Regions from separate parts of the Homo sapiens genome. Here all the other regions are linked to region 4. Evidence: fine-mapped expression QTL. A gene starts in region 4. Each other region holds a variant in brackets. All regions are shown on one strand. Distances are between the middles of the regions. Region 1 overlaps SNX19 (sorting nexin 19). Region 2 overlaps LINC02551 (long intergenic non-protein coding RNA 2551). Region 3 overlaps SNX19 (sorting nexin 19). Region 4 holds the start of SNX19 (sorting nexin 19).

The links.
Region 1: its variant is fine-mapped to the expression of SNX19 in whole blood (TOPMed, PIP above 0.99).
Region 2: its variant is fine-mapped to the expression of SNX19 in atrial appendage (GTEx, PIP 0.95).
Region 3: its variant is fine-mapped to the expression of SNX19 in whole blood (INTERVAL, PIP above 0.99).

The regions. Positions count from the first base shown.
Region 1 is chr11:130,893,947-130,898,933 of GRCh38, reverse strand. All of the region lies in intron 8 of SNX19 (sorting nexin 19), which reads left to right. Among named protein-coding and RNA genes, the nearest start is that of SNX19, 20 kb to the left of the region's middle. The variant A/G (reference allele first, on the strand shown) is at 2,604.
Region 2 is chr11:130,844,740-130,849,726 of GRCh38, reverse strand. LINC02551 (long intergenic non-protein coding RNA 2551) reads left to right here. Exons shown (of 6, transcript NR_125383.1): 4 at 2,685-2,864; 5 at 3,536-3,600; 6 at 4,691-4,987. Among named protein-coding and RNA genes, the nearest start is that of LINC02551, 15 kb to the left of the region's middle. The variant G/C (reference allele first, on the strand shown) is at 2,713.
Region 3 is chr11:130,873,731-130,878,717 of GRCh38, reverse strand. SNX19 (sorting nexin 19) reads left to right here. Exons shown (of 11, transcript NM_014758.3): 11 at 164-4,987. The coding sequence ends at 296. Among named protein-coding and RNA genes, the nearest start is that of LINC02551, 14 kb to the right of the region's middle. The variant G/A (reference allele first, on the strand shown) is at 1,981.
Region 4 is chr11:130,913,647-130,918,633 of GRCh38, reverse strand. It overlaps SNX19 (sorting nexin 19), which reads left to right and starts at 2,155. Exons shown (of 11, transcript NM_014758.3): 1 at 2,155-4,368. The coding sequence starts at 2,695. RefSeq lists a silencer at 1,963-2,242 and an enhancer at 2,363-2,412.

The DNA of each region.
Region 1 (4,987 bases), 20 kb after region 4:
CAGGATCAGATCTTTGCCCTGCAATTCAGCAGGATAAAAGCCAACCCAAAAATCTCTGTCTCCAAGTACTGGAGATTATCAGGCAGTTTGTAGAATCCAAACTGCATCTCCGTATCTACACACTTGCAGCTAACCTAAGGGCAGTGCTGCAGTCTAAAGACAGCCCATGTTACTATCCCTGGGACAGTTGCAGGTTTTAATTTTAAAAAGTGGTGTATGCATTGCTGCATGCTTCAGCTTTATTTGCTTTGGTAAGCCAATATGCTGGAAACTTGACATCTCCAGAGCTGCAGCACCTCTCCACTGTACCCCCTGCATCTCCCACAAGAGGCATGATATGAGGTCCCGTTGCCTCCCATCCCCATGACTGCTGCCTAGGAGGCTACATGTTTGTCCTCCCTGAAACCACGGGTAGCTGAGCCATATGCTTTTGCAGGGTACTTGGGTTCTCTTCCTTTAAGTTCCGTGCTTAAAAGAGCAGGATAGTTGGTGTTGGTGCCACACGTGGTACTGCCACTTCTCTAGTTATTTAGAACTCACTGCAGTTTGACCATCAGGGATGCTGTAGTCACCAGATTTGAGTGCATCTCCTCCTTAAAATGTCCTCATGTTCCAACCTCCAGTATTATTATCCCCAAGCAGGCAAGTTTATTCCTCTGCTTCCAACTTTGTATACCCATCTTGCAACTTTAAAAGACCTGTGTACATTACTGCCTTGGACGCCATAGACTTCTGTCAAATTATAAGCACACTCTCTATCCTGCAAAGGAAAAAAAAAAAACAGAGTAAGTTCGACCTCATAACCCCTCCTTCTAAGCCAAAGTTGGAAGAGCTCTGATCTGAGCCAGGCTTATAAATCTCCGTTGATTGTTGATGATGTGGAGAGAAGTGGGAGGGGAGCTGAAGAGAAGTTAGATGCCCAAAAAAGGCATTGTTAAGTCAAAGGGAAGTCTTGCATGCATGTGCGCCTAACCTCATGTGTCAGCTTCTGTGCTGGGAACATCCAATTATGTAACAAGAAGCACTCCTTATTTGGAATGAGAGACAAAGGGAGGGGAAGGGGAGAGCGGGTAGCACTCTGAGCCAAGGAGCAAATCCGGCTTGTGCAAACTCTGCTCATGCCCGAAAACAGAAGAAACTTGAAAATATCTCTGCAAACATCAGAATCAGATTTAGCAAACTGGGCAAGTACTCAGAGTTAGACTGGGTTGGAGGGAAAGAGGAGAGATACACTGTGCTGCATTGATGGTAGGGGGTTTGGGGCAGGAAGATCCAGCCAAGGTAAGGGGTAGGATTGGTGTGGAGTCCTGATGGAAAGTGAAGGAATGAGAAGCTGGACCGGCGCCCTGCCTGGACACCCAGAGCAATGCCACGATAAAAATAGGAACCATGCCAGCAGCAGAATGCGTGAATGCCACGTCCGCGGCGCTGCCCTCCCCATGGCCCCAACGATGGCATCAGACCTGTGTCAAAAGGGCAGCAGACACATTCCTGGCATCTGCGTCAGGATTTCTCAGTTAAAAAGGGAGTGTGTGTGTGTGTGTCTGTGTGTGTGTGTGTAAGATAGAGACAGAGTGTGTGTGTGTGAGTGTTGGGGGCATGTGGGAATGGAATGGCTTGGCAGAAAGCCAGGGGGAAAGGTTCTGGCAGAGGGGAGCGTGAAGTGTGTAAAGTTAGGAAGTATCCAGAGAGGAAGAAGAAAAGAAAGGGTGTGCAGGTTTAAGGAGTCCAACAAGCAGGGCACCCAGGAGAAACTTGATGGCAAGCTCTAGACCTTACACCAGACCTTGGAATCACTTTCTTAGAGAAGATGTCTCTCTCTAAACCATCTCCTAGGAAAGGTCAGGAGAGCTGCGGCAGAGTCTGGGAGCACTGGAGAGTGCTGTGCTGCAAGGCGCAACGTCCACCTCCCCTAAGGACAGTTGGGAAAGGTTGACCATGAACCCTCTTGCTTCCACTGTTCTCTTAGAACGCTCCAGAATCAAGGCGCTTTCTGTGGAACTCTACTTCAAGGGCCTCTTTCTTGGTGGGCATGTCTAACTAGCAGGTGGATAACAGTTCTTTGTGACATTGGTTATTTCTTAAGAGAACCTCCAGGTCTGCCACCAAAAGTGCACGAGTAATTGCAATGGGAAAGGAACTGACGCTTATTACAATATTAATACCAGGAAAGCAGCTATGTACTGTTTATATTAATGTTCAATTCTATGAGATAGACATGTAGTTCTACATTTCATAAGTGAAGAAAATTACATTCAGATAAAATAACGTTCCCAAAATCATAAAAGTCGTAACAACCACACCTTAAGATTCCACTTAAGTCATCCTGGCCTCAGAGCTCATGTGTTTCCCACTGCTCTGCCATGCTTCCCCTCCATGCAAGCTTTCCCACAAAGCAGTGGCCACTAGAACTGGGTTCACCTGAAAGTTCCCTTGCCGTATTCCCATCTAGCCTCTCTTGCTTTCCATCCAGCTGGTCTCAGGGACACACGCATCTGATGGTAGCATATAAATTATTTTTGTCTGCATATTCTGATTTTATTTTTAAAGCACTTCTGAGCCAGAGATTGTCTCTTAGCTATCTCTATTTATATGCTATTCAC[A/G]ATCAGGAAAAGATTATCAACGTTAAGACTCAGAGTTTCTCAGGAAGCATAGATTACAGTTTTTTCCTTTGCTGTGTAACTTTTTCTTCCAGTTCAGCTCTGATGCCTGGCTATGTCTTATACCCCATCTCTTCCTATGCACAGCTTTTCTAGAAATACGCATACTTTTGCAAGACCCCCACATACAAAATTAACTCAAGCTCAGTCTTCAGAATTCTCGCTTATTTTCTGGCTCTCCAGTCATTGGCTTGGGCTGTTTTTAGAGGTGCTGAAATTAATTTTTCTCATTGATGGCTTTGCTCAGATTGTACTGTGGCTCCCTGGGAAGGAGTACTGCTTGTCCCAGGCCTCTTCCATTAGGCCATGCCAAAGGGAAGCTCTTGACTTCTATAGACTGGGCCAGGATGGGCCCTAGCAGTTTCCCCTGTCATATGAGTGGTCTGCCTGTCATATTTCTTGGGTATCACTTATTCTACACCCATCTTAGGATGAAGACATCATGGCTTTCCTGTCACATAGTGACAGTCTCTACTGGAATATATCTTTGAGATTGTAGCAGGTGGATGGCAGCTGACAGCCGTGTGCCTGAGCATTGCATTTGCATTTCTGTGTGTGTGTGCTCTTGAAGTCTCATATACTCAAATAGAGGTACAAAATTGCTCATTGTAAAAGTTAACAAAAAACAGAATATCATGAGGTATTTAAACCTCAGAGCCTTTTTTTCCAAGTCAGGTTCTTGGCATCTCTTGCCCATCTGTGACTGCAAACAGGAACCTAAGATTTTGACATTTTGATGACAGCTTTAGAATGTATGTCAGCATCCTGAGGGCAGGGACTGCGTCTTATTTACCATTATATCTTCAACACCCAGCCCCATGCATAGAAGGCACCTAGTAAATTTGTGTCAAATAAATGAACACAGAAGATCACACGTCATTCTACTGGAGGCAGTCCCTCTGCTTATCACTATTAAGAATCTTAGGGTTTCCTCAACAGTGCTGGGGGACCAGAAGCAAAATGGAAACTGAGTCTTTCATTCCCTCCACACAGGGCATACCCAGATCTTCAGTTAATTGGGGAATTCTGATTCCCAGAGCCATGGTACGGCCTAAGCAAAGAGGTTTGGGGGCCCTTCAGGCCATCTCCCATTCTAATGGCTCTCTCCTTTCCAAAGAGTGCAGCGCCCCTCCACAACCTGGGCCTCCCAGTATGAAGCCCCACCGAGCCTGCCCTCTCTGGAAGCATCTCCTGCTGTTGTACTTTCTCCACCTCTTTCCTTCCACATGGAAAGCAAGAACTTGGACTTTGAAGTCAGATCTGAAATCAGATCTTGCTTTGAGGCTATGTGACTTAGAACAAACCACTTAACTTCCTTTGTCTGTTACTGTCGAAATAGAAATCATAGCCTAGTGCATGAAGTTCTTTGGGGGGATAAGAGATAATTTAGAGGTAAATGTTAGAGAGGCTTTATAGAGGAAGGTATAACAGCTAGATCTTGTGAGATAGGTGTCATTTAGACTGGTTTAGGCTAAATAATATTCTAGACACTAAGACATTTTTAAAACAGGAGGAGGGGCATTCTACTTTCAAATAAAAAGCAACCTGGAATATTTTTAGCCAGCTTCTTTCTGAATGTGTGTTGCTTTTATTGTTTCAAATAGGTGACAAAAAGCCTACCAAACTGCTGCTGCATGGCGTGGGCACAGGAATTCTCTCTATGGGCACCAGGTGGCGCTGCAGGTTAAACAATACCATTCACTGTCCTTTGAGGAAGACCTGTTTGTTTTGCAGTTATAGGTCCCCTGCCGTGATGTTGATACAGTATATTGAAGCCATTCCCTGGCTTGCTCTACGGTTTAGAGGCCACTTATCTGCCTACTCCTTAGTGCCAGTGACTTTTAGATAAGCCCTGTTTCTTTGATCTTTCACCCTTCTTCCTTCTGCTCTAATGCGTCTTCAGCATATGCTTGCTTCTCTGAGTGGTGTGGATGACCAGAAGTTGCCCCTTTGAGTGGATCCCACCCGTTAAAAATTCAGTGCTGGAGCTGATTCATTCAGAACAGAGTGAGCAGAACAGAGTCTGTGGTGATGAGACCAGCTAGACATCTGAATTGCAAGAATTTTGTTAATATTCTGTATAAACTACTTGGACCTATATTCAGGGTCTCCTGTGATCCTAAAATCTTATACATTATGTATTCACTAAGATGGAGATTGTCAGTGCTGAATAGCCCCGATGTTAGGAATCTTATCAACCTGTTACATAATCAAGGACATTCCCTATTGCTTTCGGCCATGGATGGAGACCGTTTGGCTCTCCCCCATTAACTTGGTTTTGGAGAAGCAACCATATGTTATTGCTTACTTTTGATCTTTACCTCTGT
Region 2 (4,987 bases), 69 kb after region 4:
ATCTCTCCAAAAAAAAAAAAAAAAAAAAAAATCAGCCAGGTGTGGTGGTACATGCCTTTGGTCCCAGCTACTCAGGACCTGAGATGGGAAGGCTGAGATGGGAAGACTGCTTGAGTCTAGAAGATTGAGGCTGCAGTGAGCCATGATTGCACCATTGCACTCCAGCCTGGGCAACAGAGCAAAATTCTGCCTAAAAAAAAAAGTAAAGAAAGTTGTATGCTGAAATGCCCTCCTAATCCTCCACTACTCAGGCCAACTGAGATGAGTTTCAAAGAACCTCTAACAGGCTTGCCATATATTCCTTGGAATTGGGGCAGATTCTGGAACTGGTATCTGAGTCACACTTACTTGGAAGAAAATCTGAAGGAGGGAGTTTCTGGCTGTGGGCAGGGAGTAGAAGCTGTGCTGGCAGACTGAAGGGAGCTATGCAAACGGCAGCGCAAAAACACATGTTTCTCAAGGTCCACATGTGAATCCTGAGGAAGAGACCAGCATGAGGCAGTTTGAAAACTCTATCCAAGAGGACCACTGGAATTAGGGAGGGAGTGCAGGGTGGATGACCCCAGCAGAAGGAGACTGCAGTGAACCACCAGCCATGGGCTGGGCGAATGTCATCAACTTCTAGCCAAAGGAGGCATCCCTGCACCAGAAAACCGCAGTTGAGAGTCCCCAGAGGAGGAGCTTAGAAGAACCCAGAGATGTACCCATGAAAGAAAAGAGGAGCACTTGAGTGCTCAGCTCAGAGAGCCCTTAAACGCCGGATCACACCTGGGCCTACCAAGTAAGGAAGACCTTTCCCATCCACTGCCCTTCTCCTTCTACCCCTGGCCAGCCCTGAAGGAGCCAACAGCAACATGAAGAGTGGGAGGTAGATCAGCCAGGAGAACAAAGAAAAGAAGCAAGTCTCTGCAAGTTTCCCAGCCCCAGCCAGGGCAAAGGTAGTGATTGACAGCTTGGAGTTTAATAAAATATTGAACTGGGCTTTTAATATATGCAAAAGACCAGAATATTCCATGGGATCTGCAGGAAGGAAGAAGGAATTGAAAAAGAGTTATAACACAAAGTGGAGGAAAAATAGTTTCCTTCTATTAACACTGTACCAAATCCAGTCATTCAGAAACAAAACAGAAAGTTCCCTACGCCGCCAACTTTCTGGGTTGCTTACCTGTAAAGCCACACAGAGCTCTGCAGTTAGAAGGGTTCCACCCTTGGCTTAATGCTCTGTTACCATCTTGAAATTCTTAGTAATTTTTAACATGGGCCCCACATTCTCATTTTGCACTGGGCCCTGCAAATTACATAGCCAGTCCTAGTAACATATGTAACAGGGACTTAGCCTTGTTCTATGTGACCCCAGTTGGTAGAATGGAACCAATTAGTGGGAGGTTAAAAAAACAAACAAACAAAAAAAAAAAACAGATTTTAGCTCAATGCAGTAGTCCCCACTTATTCACAGGGAATATGTTCCAAGACACCCAGTGGATGCCTGAAACCTAGGATAGTACCAACCCCAACTATGTTTTTTTCCTATACATACATATCTATGATAAAGTTTGGGGTGCAACAGCAAAACTATATGAATTTTTTTCTTCTTCACAATTTCACAGGTAAAAAAATTCATTCTCACTGTAGATCTCAGCAACTTTAATATTGCAATTTTTATTCTTTCGTTATTAAGTCAAGAGCTCTCACCTTTTCACTTAACGAAAGCACTTCCCAGCTTCTCCTAGGCATGTTCAAATGGCCAGCATCACTACTTTTGTTCTTTGGAGCCACTGTTCAGTAAAATAAGGGTCACTTGAACACAAGCACTGCAAAACAAATGACAGTCAATCTAATAACCAAGACGGCTCCTATGTGACTCATGGGTGAGTAGCGCAGACAGCATGGACATGCCAGACAACGGGATGATTCACGTCCTGGGTGAGATGGAGTAGGACTGCATGAGATTTTTATCATGCCATTCAGAAGGGCATGCAATTTAAAACTTACGTGTATTTCTGAGATTTGCCATTTACTATTTCTGGACTGCGGTTAAGCACAGGTAACTAAAACTGTAGAAAGTGAAACTGCAGATAAGGGAGACTACTGTATCGGGACAAGTTTGTTAATACTCATAGCTACCCAGATTGGGATAGGCAGTGTAAAGGAGTCAGAGCTTCTGTTCATCAGAATCCATACGGCAGAGGTGGGTCAGCCTTTTGGCACTCTAGGGCCTCCAAAATCCTTTTCAGCCCTGGGATTATCTGATTCTTTGATTAATGAATGTCTTTCAAGATGCCTACCTTACCAACTTAACCAGGAAATGAATTCACTAGTACTGTGACCAGGTAAGAGTATTTCCAAGGGCAGCCTATGAGCCCTCAATGGATGGAGTTTCACTAATTCCCTCTGTTTCTGTCTAAGTTGTGAGGTATTTTCCTTTAATGAGAACATTATTGCCATTACTCACTGTATTTTTTTTGTTCGTTGTTAGTTGGATCTTATTATGGCTGGCACATCATGGCTCCTTTATTCCAAGAAGAAGTCTTTTAAAACATCCCAGAAAGTATCTAGGGCTTAAAGCCACTTTCATTAATCATTATTTTGACAATGAAGCATAAACAAACTGACAAATATTGTTTAAATTTAACATTAAAATTCAATGTGTATGTCTCAGTTATTGTTGTCATTCTTATTTTCAGTCAGGGAGATGGTTCCAGGAGAAGAAAA[G/C]AAAGTCAGTTGCTTTCTGAGATCAGGTGGGAAGTTTATCCTGTCAACTCCACCTTTAGAGTGCTAGTCTCTGGAGCCACAAGGACTGAAACTCTGCTTCAGAGACCCACCACTGATGACAACCATCAGGCTCAGGAACTGAAAAGAAATGGGTATGCTTGATCATGCTTAGTAAACACGTTTCACTACTGACTCACTTCTCCTGTGTGTTGGAAAACGTTGAGCTTCTTTCATACCATATTTTGGCCTTGACCTTTGTAGCATTTAGCCTCCCTACAATGGGGTCTATGTGTTTCCACACCCTCAGAGCAGGCCCCTAATTATAGCCATCCATTAAACTGTCAGAAAGAAATCCTCAACTCAATCATGTCTTTATCAAACTCTGGCTGTCAGTGGGGTCAAGTGAGGCGTCAAGTCTGACCTGCCCGGAGCCCCTGTCATGTGCTCATCTCACACTCACTGGGGTCTTTGTGACCAGGCAGGCTAGACAGCCACCTGGCCACCCCCAGCCCAGTCCCCTCTCCCACTGCATTGCCCAGACAGGGCGGAGCCAAGGGAGGCTCTCAAGCTCAGATAATGGGGCTGACATAATGTAAGGCCTTCTCCTTGACCTTATCTTGGGGTATTTTGTGCAAAGAAGTTGTATGGGGTTGGCAAAGTCCTAAATTGGAAATGGGGACTCTACTAAACAGGGAGGAATCTAGTTTCAGGGGAAAAAAATTATTCGGTTTGGACCTGCTTTTGGAGATTATGCAATAGAATCAGAGGATTTTATCACTACAAAGGAAATTGTACCTGTCTAACCCTTTATTTTACATTTCAGTGCAAATGTGGCCGAGGGACTTGGGTTTTACATTTATTGCCGAGTCTGGTTTTCTTGAGTTTCAGGTGAGTAATATTTTAAAGGGAGCTCCATAAGAATGAGGTTAATCCAAGGTTGTCATATGTGGCTTTATATTATTCTCTAGTTGGTTCACACAAATTTGTTTTGTCTCCCATACAAGATCATAAAATTCTTCAAGGATAAAGGTTATTTCTCCTCTGTAGCCCATAGTGTTAAGAAAGAACTTAAAGTATTTGTTGAGAGTTAGCAATGCTCTTTACTCATTTGTTCTGTATTTGAGTGTGTGTGTGTATGTATGTGTGTGTGTGTGTGTTCCTGTGTGTCTCCCCAGATAACTTATAAACACTACCTGCAAATTAAAATAGAACCACCGTGTTTTATTGCTAGTCCTATCACCGCATTTAAAAGACGAGGACATTGAGATCCAGGGAAGTTAAGTTACTTGCACAAGAATATTCAACAAGAATATGATTTAAACTCGGATCCACTTACAGCCCATTCAGTATTCTCCCCACAGTACCAAGTCCCCTTCTTGTTCTAACACATTGGTAGATAAATGTTGACGGGTACAAAAAAAGAAGACATCAGAAATAGGTGGGGTGAATCAGCCCTTAACTATTAACATTACTATTGTTATTAGCAATACCTTAAATATTACCCTGCCCATACAGCTGTTAAACTATTAAGATAAACACTCTTAACAGTTTCATGTATACCCCCACATAAACAATAACTGAAAGCAAGTTTGTGCCATATATATATGTGCATTTATATATAAATATATATGCATTTTCAGTTACACACACACACATATATGCATTTTCAATTACACAAGAGGAATTTTGCCATATATGTTGCTCTGTACTTTACTCTTTTCAATTGATGATATTCCTTAGAGATCTTTCTGTATCAGCACATGCAGATCTAATTCACACTTTTCAAAGGGCATTTATGGTTGGATATACCATAACTTATTTAACCACTCCCCTACTCATGGGCACTTCGGTTGTTTCCAGATTTATGCTAAGAAATGTGTACCTTTAACAACCTCTCCTGGAGGGGTTTTAAGTCACTAGCTTGACATGAGATCGGTATTTTGAAATCACCAATAGTCGTATGCCTTTATTTTTACAGATGATAAAATTGAAGCCCAGAGAAGCTTGGGAGCCTCAACTATTAATGGAAAAACCATAACTAGAACTGAGTTTTCCTGAGACATTTTTTACTATTCATTCCCCTGCTCTTGGGCCACTCCAGGGCACTGAGCACACTTGCTTTGGCTATTTGGAGAAGAGGCCAATAGACACAACTGGCTTCATCTTCAGGGACACCCAATATCTGGCAGCCCTCAGCCCCAGCGGAGTCTTTATTGAAAGAACTGATTCATAGACCAGGCGCGGTGGCTCACGCCTATAATCCCAACACTTTGGG
Region 3 (4,987 bases), 40 kb after region 4:
GAGGCTTTATTAGTTCAAAAAACATTAATTTCATGGCAGAGGTTTCATCAAGCTATTGAAGTTTAGGGTGTCGGTGATGGGGGAGGAGAAAATAAATGTCATAAACAGGATCTTGTGTTTCCTGATTGAGCCAGACCCTAAGTTTTTTGTCCATTCGTTTCAGGCATTTGATTTACTGCCTTGGGGACATCATCCTGGAATTCTTGGATCTCAGTGCCTCTGTTGAGGAGTCTGCTGCTACCACCTCTGCCTCAGATACCCCAGGCAACTCTAAGAGGATGGGTGTCTCCTCTTAGCTGGTTATTCACGCCTTCTTCCCAGGTCAGGGAAGTAGAGTTACTCGGCCACCAGAGACCAGTCAGGAAGCCCGTGCCCTCTTCAAGTAGGCTACAGCTAAGAAGGCCTAGGTTCTCGGTGGCTCACTTCTCTCCCACTTCTGCTCCATTTGTAGCAGGTGACAGGGGTCTGTGTGTCCCAGTTGTATGCACGTTTATTTCCCTGTTCCTTTTGTGATGTTGGGATTGTTGCTGGTGAGTAGATCCTGTTTCCTTTGGGAAAAGAAGCTGTGAGGTAGAGGAATGAACCCCTTTTGCTTCTCCTTTTGCCATCCTCCCTGAGATTGTTTGCCAGAATCCTGGCCCTGTGCACACATGTGCTTAATCCACCAGCACACAAGCTCTAGATAGAACAGGAAAAAAACTGTGGCCAGATTTCCTTGGAGGAGAAAACAACCTTCTCAGCTCTCTGTTCCTACCCGGAAACTAAAAATTCATTCAGGGCCATTCTCAAAAACCAGACTCCTGGGTCTAATCTAGTTTCCCAACAGTTCCAGAAGAAGAAGGAGGGAAGAAAATTTTTCAAGGAACTTCTTGCTCATGTGTTGCTGTTTCCCAACACATCAGCCTTATGGAAGATGTCATGAGGCTGCTTGCCTGGGAGGCTACACTTTCCTTTCCAGAAGACTTCAAAGCTGACTGCCAAAGCTTCTGGTAAATCCACCCCACCCTTCACACCCTTTCCTGAAAGGCATTTATACCACCCATTTTATTTATTGGCTTTGCTCCCAACCCCCTGCCCTAGAGCAATTGAGTTTTTGAATTTTTGACCCTCTCTCTGTCTTCAGCAAAACTGCATGACAAGCTGCATATTCAGCCTCAGTTTTTCCAAGGAGAATGGAAAGCACTTGCCTCCTGTCTTAAGAATGCACAAAGAGTAGGACTAGCAAGGCTGGGGGATGAAATCTCCCTTCCTAAGTCTTTGACAGAGAACTTTTATTATTCTGAACAGATAAGATTAGCAAACTTACAAGGAATAGCTTCTTATTTCCCATTCCTTACGGTTATAATCAGTCCTTTAACAACACCAGCATGAAGGCAAAGGTGTTTTGTCAGACTGCAACATCTATTAGAAAGGCAAGGCAACTGGGAATTGCTGGAGAAGGATAAATCAGGAGGAATTGCTGGTAGAAAAGGCTGCAGACAGTCACAGGGAAGTGCTGTATATTAAATGCATGTGAATAGCTGGCAAAAAGATGTCAAGGATGTCACTGGGAGCCCTTTGGCTTCACACTCGCCTGTTAGCGCCTTGCTTTCGCTGAATTACCAGAGCCTACCACTCGGAGGAAGGTCTTGGAGTTAGACTGATGAGAAGGCAATGGGGTGTCAAAAACAAGTGTCAAAGTTCTCTTAGATTCTGAAGTCGGTGATGAGCACACAATTAAAGTGGTTTGTGGAAGAAAGTTGTAAAATCTTTTTACTTTTTTGCCCCTCTGGAGGCTTTTAACCCTAAATTGTGTCTGATGTATTCGGGAGGCTTAGGTGTGCAATTCTTGCCCAAAGGCAAGGAGATGAATGAGATGTCTCATGGCCTCTTCTAGCCTTAAAAGTTGACCATTACAGTGACTTTATGGCTCCAAAGTTCTTGAAGCATCTCCAGCCCTAGACTTTGACAAGAAAAGGTAGCTCAGCATCTCTACTTTCC[G/A]TGAGTACCTGCAGGAGTCCAGCCAATGTATTAGAGCTGATCATTAAGCTCCTTCAGTGAGGGCTAAGATCCTATTCTCGATGAGCATAGGGGGACAGCCTTGTTTTATGCCACTTTTCTCTCCCCATACCTACCTTCCCCTCATGTGTACTTAGCCACCTGTGTTGCTTTGAATCTGCTGCCAGTTCTGGCTCAAATGTGGCACAAAATCAGTACATCAGACACACCATGAAATCCCTGTGGCTATAAATTCTAAGGAATCTTTTGACACTTCCAGCCCAAAGAACTTATTTTTATTTCGTATTATATAAGAGTCCCCACCTCTACTCCACGTACCCCAAAAAGATAAGCTGTCCTCAGATCCTCCTTCTACCCAGGAGGGAAATAATGGATATTGCCAAGGGAACAATCAGAACTCATCTGGCTTTGAAAACGACCTGCCAAGTTTGGCTAGCAGGTTCAGACAACAAGAGAGTAACAATTGGTAGAGAGCCACAGGTAGAAAAGATACTCCCAGCTGACAGGGTGATAAAAGGCAGGGAAGAATTGGGCCTGTGCTGATCCAGGAAGGTTTTATTGTTTGCTTGTTTTTTGTATTTACTCGTGACTAAATTTTATTCATTTAAGTCAGAATTTTGATATTTGAAATAAGACTACTTTCCCTTTTCTTACTATCTATAAAAAAGACGAGGCAGGGATGCTGTGTTCTTTCTGTCAAATTCTAAATGTGATCTTTGCCATTGCTTATTTGAATTCAAGAAAGCTATACTTTTTCATCACATATAACTCACAGTTTCATTTTTGCATTGTTGGATTAGACTTAATAAAACCTAAATGGAAAATAAATTCCTAAATCTGAGCCTAGGAGCATGTATAAATTTTATTTTTATTATTATTATACATTAAGTTCTAGGGAACATGTGCACAACATGCAGGTTTGTTGCATATGTATACATGTGCCGTGTTGGTGTGCTGCACCCGTTAACTCGTCATTTACATTAGGTATATCTCCTGATGCTATCCCTTCCCCCTCCCCCGACCTCACAACAGGCCCCAGTGTGTGATGTTCACCTTCCTGTGTCCAAGTGTTCTCATTGTTCAATTCCCACCTATGAGTGAGAGCATGTATAAATTTTAAAATCAATACAAGCTACTCCAATTTCCATTTTGGAAATTTCCAGTTTACAAGGTGATTTTCTTATTGTTGTAAAGAAACACATAATGTGAGATCTACCCTCTTAAGTGTACAGTACATTATTTATTTATTTTGAGACGGTACATTATTAACTAGAAGCAGCACAGTGCTTTGTAGCAGACTGCTACAAGTTTTTCATCTTGCATAACCAAAAGTTTATACCCATTGAACAGCCACTCCTCGTTTCCCCTCCCACCAGCCTCTGGCAATCACTGTTCTACTTTCTGCTTCTGTGAGTTTGACTACTTTGAACGCCTCATATAAGTGGAATCATGCAGTGTTTGTCCTTTGACTGGCTTATTTCACTTAGCATAATGTCCTCCAGGTTCATCCACGTTACAGCATGTGACAGAATTTTCTTTTTAAGGCTGAAAACATTCCATTGTATGGCTATGCCACATTTTCTTTGTTCATTCATTGAGGGACATTTAGGTTGGCTCCGCGCCTTGATTGTTGAAAACAATGCTGCAGTGAACATGGGAGTGTGACTGTTTCTTCGAGGCCCTGCTTTTAATTATTTTAGATAAATACCCAGAAGTAGGATTGCTGGATCATATATTGTTCTGTTTTTAATTCTTTGAAGACCTTCATACTGTTTTCCATAGTGACTAGACCATTTTACATTCCCACCAACAATGTACAAGGGTTCCAGTTTCTCCACATCCTCTCCAACACTTGTAATGTTTTGTTTTTTCATAATGGCATCTTAAAAGGTATTAGGTGATATTACTATCTCATGGTTTTGATTTGCATAGCCTAGAACATTTTTGAGTCTTCCTGTGTCCTACCCAGGTTATTCATTTCCAGCTACTGCTCTTCCTTTGCTCATAGCACACAACACCAGTTGTTAGGTCCTGGAGGAAGTAAAAATATGTGTAACTATGGTCCCTGGCTATATGAATCAGGATGCTCTGGACAAGAATTAAATTATGAGGAAAATTTATTTTATTTCATAACATTAGTACGTGAGTAGGTAAGCCCAGGAGTTTGGTGATTCAGCAACTCTGAGACCTCTTAAGGGGCCTGAATTCTTTCCATCTTTCTTCCTTGCCATTCTAATTAGGTCAGCTGTGCTCTCAGACTGCCTGCCTTCCTGCTGCTGCAGTTTCAGGCATCACACCCAGAGATAACATTCATAAAAGAACAGGAGCATCTCTTCTGTGTTTTCTTCTAAGGAATGAAGGAACCATTTCCCAGAAGTCCTTCAAGAATCCTCTTCTAGGCCGGGCACAGCGGCTCACACCTATAATCTCAACACTTTGGGAGGCCAAGGTTGGGGGATTGTTTGAGTCCAGGAGTTTAAGACCAGCCTGGAACATAGCAAGACCCTGTCTCTACAAAAAATATAAAAAATGAGCGGGGCATGGTGGCTCTCGCCTGTGGTTCCACCTACTAGGGAGGCTGAGGCAGGAGGATCACTTGAGCCCAGGAATTTGAGGCTGCAGTGAGCTACGATCACACCACTGCATTCTAGCCTTAAGTGACAGAGTGAGACCCCAAATAAAAAAAAAAAAAACAAAAAACCTCTTATGACTCATTGGCTAGAACCACCCACCTCATGCCAATCCACTGACACTGAGAATGGCATTGTGATTGGCTTTCAATAGTATTTTCCCCCAGAGATGAGGTCATCTTCCATGAAGGTCAGATATCTACAGAAATAATTGATGTTAGCAAGGAAGAAGCAGAGAATGGGTATTGATAGACAATGTCTGCTCTAGGGATGGGTCATTCTGCCAACATTCAGCAGATCCCCTATCTACTCCCAAAATGCCTGGTACCAGCTAATAGTTAACATCTTCTGAGAGCATT
Region 4 (4,987 bases):
CTAGACTGAGAGTCCCTTGAGGAGAATTATTGTATCTTATTTGTCTTGTTTTCTCCAACACTCTAGCACTATGCCTTTAATGTTTTGAGAAATAGGGAAAAGGAAAGAAGGAAGGACGTCTCCAGATGGTGAGTGGTGTGGCCAAGTCTCCCCACCCCACATACACACACCAGGGCACATCAGTCCTGACTCTCACCTCCTCCCAGTGATTAATCTGTTTGGAGACCAGGGTCTGCCCAGACCCCCAGGCAGGAGCTCACACCCGTCCAAATGACAAGTGCACGGGCATGTCCATCAAACCCGCTTCAGAATCAGGAAGGCACTCTTGGCTACCTTGATGCTCCAGACCATCTGGTCAGGTGGCATAGCGCCCACTTGCAAGGTCACTTCCTTACTGCCCTGAACACTCCAGATTATGCTGCCAAGTAAACTTTCTCTTTGAACTGCCACAGGAAGTCTTCAGCACCGTCGGTAGTCCCTTCATCATTCACATTTCTGTTTTAGCTCCCAACTAGGTGGCAGGGACTTTTCTCCAGAGCATTGTTGCCATTTTCTAAGTGCTCCTGAGGACATTAGAATGGTCTGGGAAGGTAGAGGGGCAGAGCCCACTTCTCGGGTTCCTTTTCTGCGGGAAGGCAGGCAGCAGTGAAAAGGTATGGACCGTGAAACCGTGGATTCACATTCTGCCATCTCACGGGAGTGCCCAGTCTGCTTAGTGGACACTGATCCTAAATCAAACCATTTGCTTTAGAAGTGATGAATCGTAAACTACGGGTCACATCTAAATGATGGCTTCTTTCGTATTCAAAGGAAGTCTCTGCCCCAACAGCAGCAATGGACGAGACAGGAAGCTGCAACGCACTTCTTGTTGGCAGAGTTTTGGGTTGGGATTTGTTTGAAGATTCCTTTAAACATCTAGGGAGTAGTCCATGATGATGAAAGACTGCTCACAGCACAGAGAAGGTGGACGAAGGGCAACCATGAGCAGCTCTGTGCAAACGATGCGAATCCTATGCCTAAATGGAAAGGAGACCCACCCTGCGGGCACAGCTCCTAGGGCCCAAGGTGGACATGGAAGCTGGCTTCACGCAAAACTGACACTAACACTTTTGACACCTGGTCAGTGCTTCCGGTATTTTGTCTTCCTATAGGTTCCTGTGTAGACAAGTGAAGTCTAATTTGCTAAAACCAAAAACAATCCAACATAGAGCATATTCCAAAGCAAATATATTACAGGATTATCTGAAAGGACACCTCTATCTCTGCTTTCCTTTTCTATGTTTTTGGGGAGGATAAGGCGAGAAGAGATAGAGGGAAATAGAAACCCTCATCCTTGAAGACTCAGCAGAAAGGCACCTTTTCTGTGAGCTTCTCCTTAACCATTGCAACCCACAGTGATCTCTCCTTCCCCTGAATTCCTATAAGATTTTGTATTTTACTATATCGCACGCTGACTGGCATTACTAGATAGCCAATCGCGTTCAAAGCGCTGGCATCCCCAGTTAGCAGGAGGTCCTGGAGGACAAGGTCTGCTTCTATTCGTCCACGCTGCCTCTCACATTGAAGACAGCAGATGCTCAAAATATTTGATTGTTTGTGTAATGCCACCAGCAAATAACCCTCAATCACAAATTTGATTTTGTGATACAGTATATGAAATGTACAACATAAATCTATCTCTGTATCGTTTCATGCCTTATATTCTGCAATTCCTGACAACAAATGAGGGTCTTTGTGCTGGGGACGCGGGGTACCGGCTCTAGGGGAAACCGGATAAATGTTAAGACACATCAGGCCAATGAAACTTCGCCTCCATGAAATTAAAATAAACCGGATTATTGACAGCGTGCCTAAGCAGTAAAGGACAGGCTTCATTTAATAACCAGAACTAGGACGCGTTTTAAAGCGCCTGGAAGTCTGGGTCTTAGCGGTGATTGCTGCGGCGGCTGTTTCGTGGCACTTCGGAAATCTGCGCCAGCTCTTGGCGAGCACGCGCCCCGTGCGCGCTCAGGCTCACGCTCAGGCTCAGAGACTACCTCGCGCAGGGCCGTCAGGGCGGCTCCTCGCCAGCAGAGGGCGCCGGGCAGCGCCGCTCCTCGGGGCGCGCGCGGACGCTCTCCCAGCATGCCTCGCTCCCGTCGACGTCGACCCGGAAGCTGTCGCCGGCGGCCGGCCGGCGGTCAGCCTTCACACAGGCCCGGCTGCGGAGCGCAGTCGCCCAGGTTTACGGCGGCAGAGGGCCGAGGCTCCCGGAGAGGACCGCGATGAGTCCACTTCAGGTCGGGGCTGAGTGTGGGCGCGCGGTTCCCGGCGGCGTGTGACCCAGTCTTCGCCGGCCGCTGCCCGCTGCGTGTGTAAGTGTCCGTGGGCCCCAGGGCCTTGCAGCGCCCGCCCCGAGGCCCCGAAGAGGCCTTCCGCCTGGGGCAGTGTGAAGGCCACAGAGTTTTCCTCCAAAGCCACACCTCAGCTGGAAGGGGCGAGTTGGAGGGCTCTGTTAGTGGTAGCCATGGGGAGACGCGGAGCTGCAGCTGTCGCTTTGCAGTGCCTGTAGGACTTTGAGGGCCTGGAGCCCCGGTTCCCTGAACAGCACCCAGATCGCCCCATATCTGAGACACAGTTCATGCCCCCCTTCCCTAACTCTGAAGTAAAATCTTGAGGGCTGTCATCTGGGGAAGCCACCTTGTCCGTTCAGCCATGAAGACAGAAACAGTGCCACCGTTCCAGGAAACTCCAGCTGGATCGAGCTGTCACCTCAATAACCTGTTGAGTAGCCGGAAGCTGATGGCTGTGGGGGTCTTGCTTGGCTGGCTCCTGGTCATACACCTTCTGGTCAACGTGTGGCTGCTGTGCCTTCTGTCGGCATTGCTAGTGGTGCTGGGAGGATGGCTGGGCTCCAGCCTCGCTGGAGTGGCTTCAGGTCGACTGCATCTGGAACGCTTCATCCCGTTGGCCACCTGTCCTCCATGCCCTGAGGCAGAAAGGCAGCTGGAACGGGAGATCAACCGCACCATCCAGATGATTATTCGAGATTTTGTGTTATCTTGGTACCGTTCCGTGAGCCAGGAGCCAGCCTTTGAGGAAGAAATGGAGGCAGCCATGAAAGGGTTGGTCCAGGAGCTTCGGAGAAGGATGAGCGTGATGGACAGTCATGCTGTTGCCCAGAGTGTTCTGACTCTCTGCGGTTGTCACCTGCAGAGCTACATTCAGGCAAAGGAGGCCACTGCAGGGAAGAATGGTCCAGTTGAGCCTTCCCACCTCTGGGAGGCTTACTGCCGGGCGACTGCCCCACATCCTGCTGTGCACAGCCCCAGTGCTGAAGTCACCTATACGCGTGGCGTTGTGAATTTGTTGCTTCAAGGGCTGGTGCCCAAGCCCCACTTGGAGACTCGTACCGGACGCCATGTAGTGGTCGAACTCATCACATGCAATGTAATCTTACCACTGATCAGCAGGCTGTCAGATCCTGACTGGATCCACCTTGTACTCGTGGGTATCTTTTCCAAGGCCAGAGATCCAGCACCCTGCCCAGCCAGTGCCCCCGAACAGCCCTCAGTGCCGACATCTCTGCCACTGATTGCTGAGGTAGAGCAGCTTCCAGAAGGGAGAGCTTCTCCAGTAGCAGCCCCAGTATTCCTAAGTTACAGTGAGCCAGAGGGTTCTGCAGGCCCCTCTCCAGAGGTTGAAGAAGGCCACGAAGCTGTAGAGGGAGATTTGGGTGGGATGTGTGAAGAAAGAAAAGTAGGAAACAACTCATCTCATTTCCTACAGCCAAATGTTCGAGGTCCCCTGTTCTTATGTGAAGACTCAGAGCTGGAGTCTCCGCTGTCTGAACTGGGCAAAGAAACCATCATGCTCATGACTCCAGGCAGCTTTCTCTCTGACAGGATTCAGGATGCCCTGTGTGCCCTAGAGAGTTCCCAGGCTCTGGAACCCAAAGATGGTGAGGCATCTGAAGGAGCAGAGGCTGAGGAGGGTCCAGGGACAGAAACAGAGACAGGCCTGCCGGTCTCCACACTGAATTCCTGCCCAGAGATCCATATTGACACAGCAGACAAGGAGATAGAACAAGGAGATGTTACCGCCTCTGTTACAGCTTTGCTGGAGGGGCCAGAAAAGACCTGCCCCTCACGGCCGTCATGCTTAGAGAAGGATCTCACCAATGATGTGAGCTCCCTTGATCCTACTCTGCCACCAGTTCTGCTTTCCTCCTCTCCACCTGGTCCTCTCAGCTCAGCCACCTTCAGCTTTGAGCCCCTAAGCAGTCCCGATGGTCCAGTTATCATCCAGAACCTTCGTATCACTGGCACCATTACAGCCCGAGAGCACAGTGGCACTGGATTCCACCCATACACACTCTATACTGTGAAGGTAACAGGATTAAAGCTGTGGGTGCTCACCCGGGCTAGGAGTGGGTTTGGAAAGCAGTCATGAAGCAAATGTTCTTGGGGGAGAGATGCTGTTAGTTTGAAGTGGTTCTTTCAATAGGCATCTATCTCTGTGAATGGTCTGAAGCTAATATGTAAGGCAGAGTAGCGTTTATCCTGTACTCACACAAGCAATCCTGGAACCTCAGGGCTGCTAGAATGCTGAGGGTTATATTTTCAGTGGTTCCCAAACTTGGCTGCACCTCAAAATCACTTGAGCTGCCTTTCAGATATACAGATTCTGACAGACTCTGTTGGATTCTGTATGAGAATTTCTAAGGAGGGGGTCCCTGGATTCTGTATTTTATTTATTTTCAAATAGAACTCTCCAGATAACATAGAGTCAGCCTGTCCTAAGGCCATCTTGGGGAATTGCCTCTCTAATCCAACCAACCCTCTTCATGTTATCTCTTGTCAAGTTGTTCCCAAGTCTGCTTACACACCTCCAAGAGTCAAAAACTTGCTATCTTCTGAGATAGACATAGGTAAATAACCTACCTTCCTAAAACAAAGTACAAAATGTACCAGTATTTTGAAAAAGAAATCAGCAGGGAAGAAGTTGA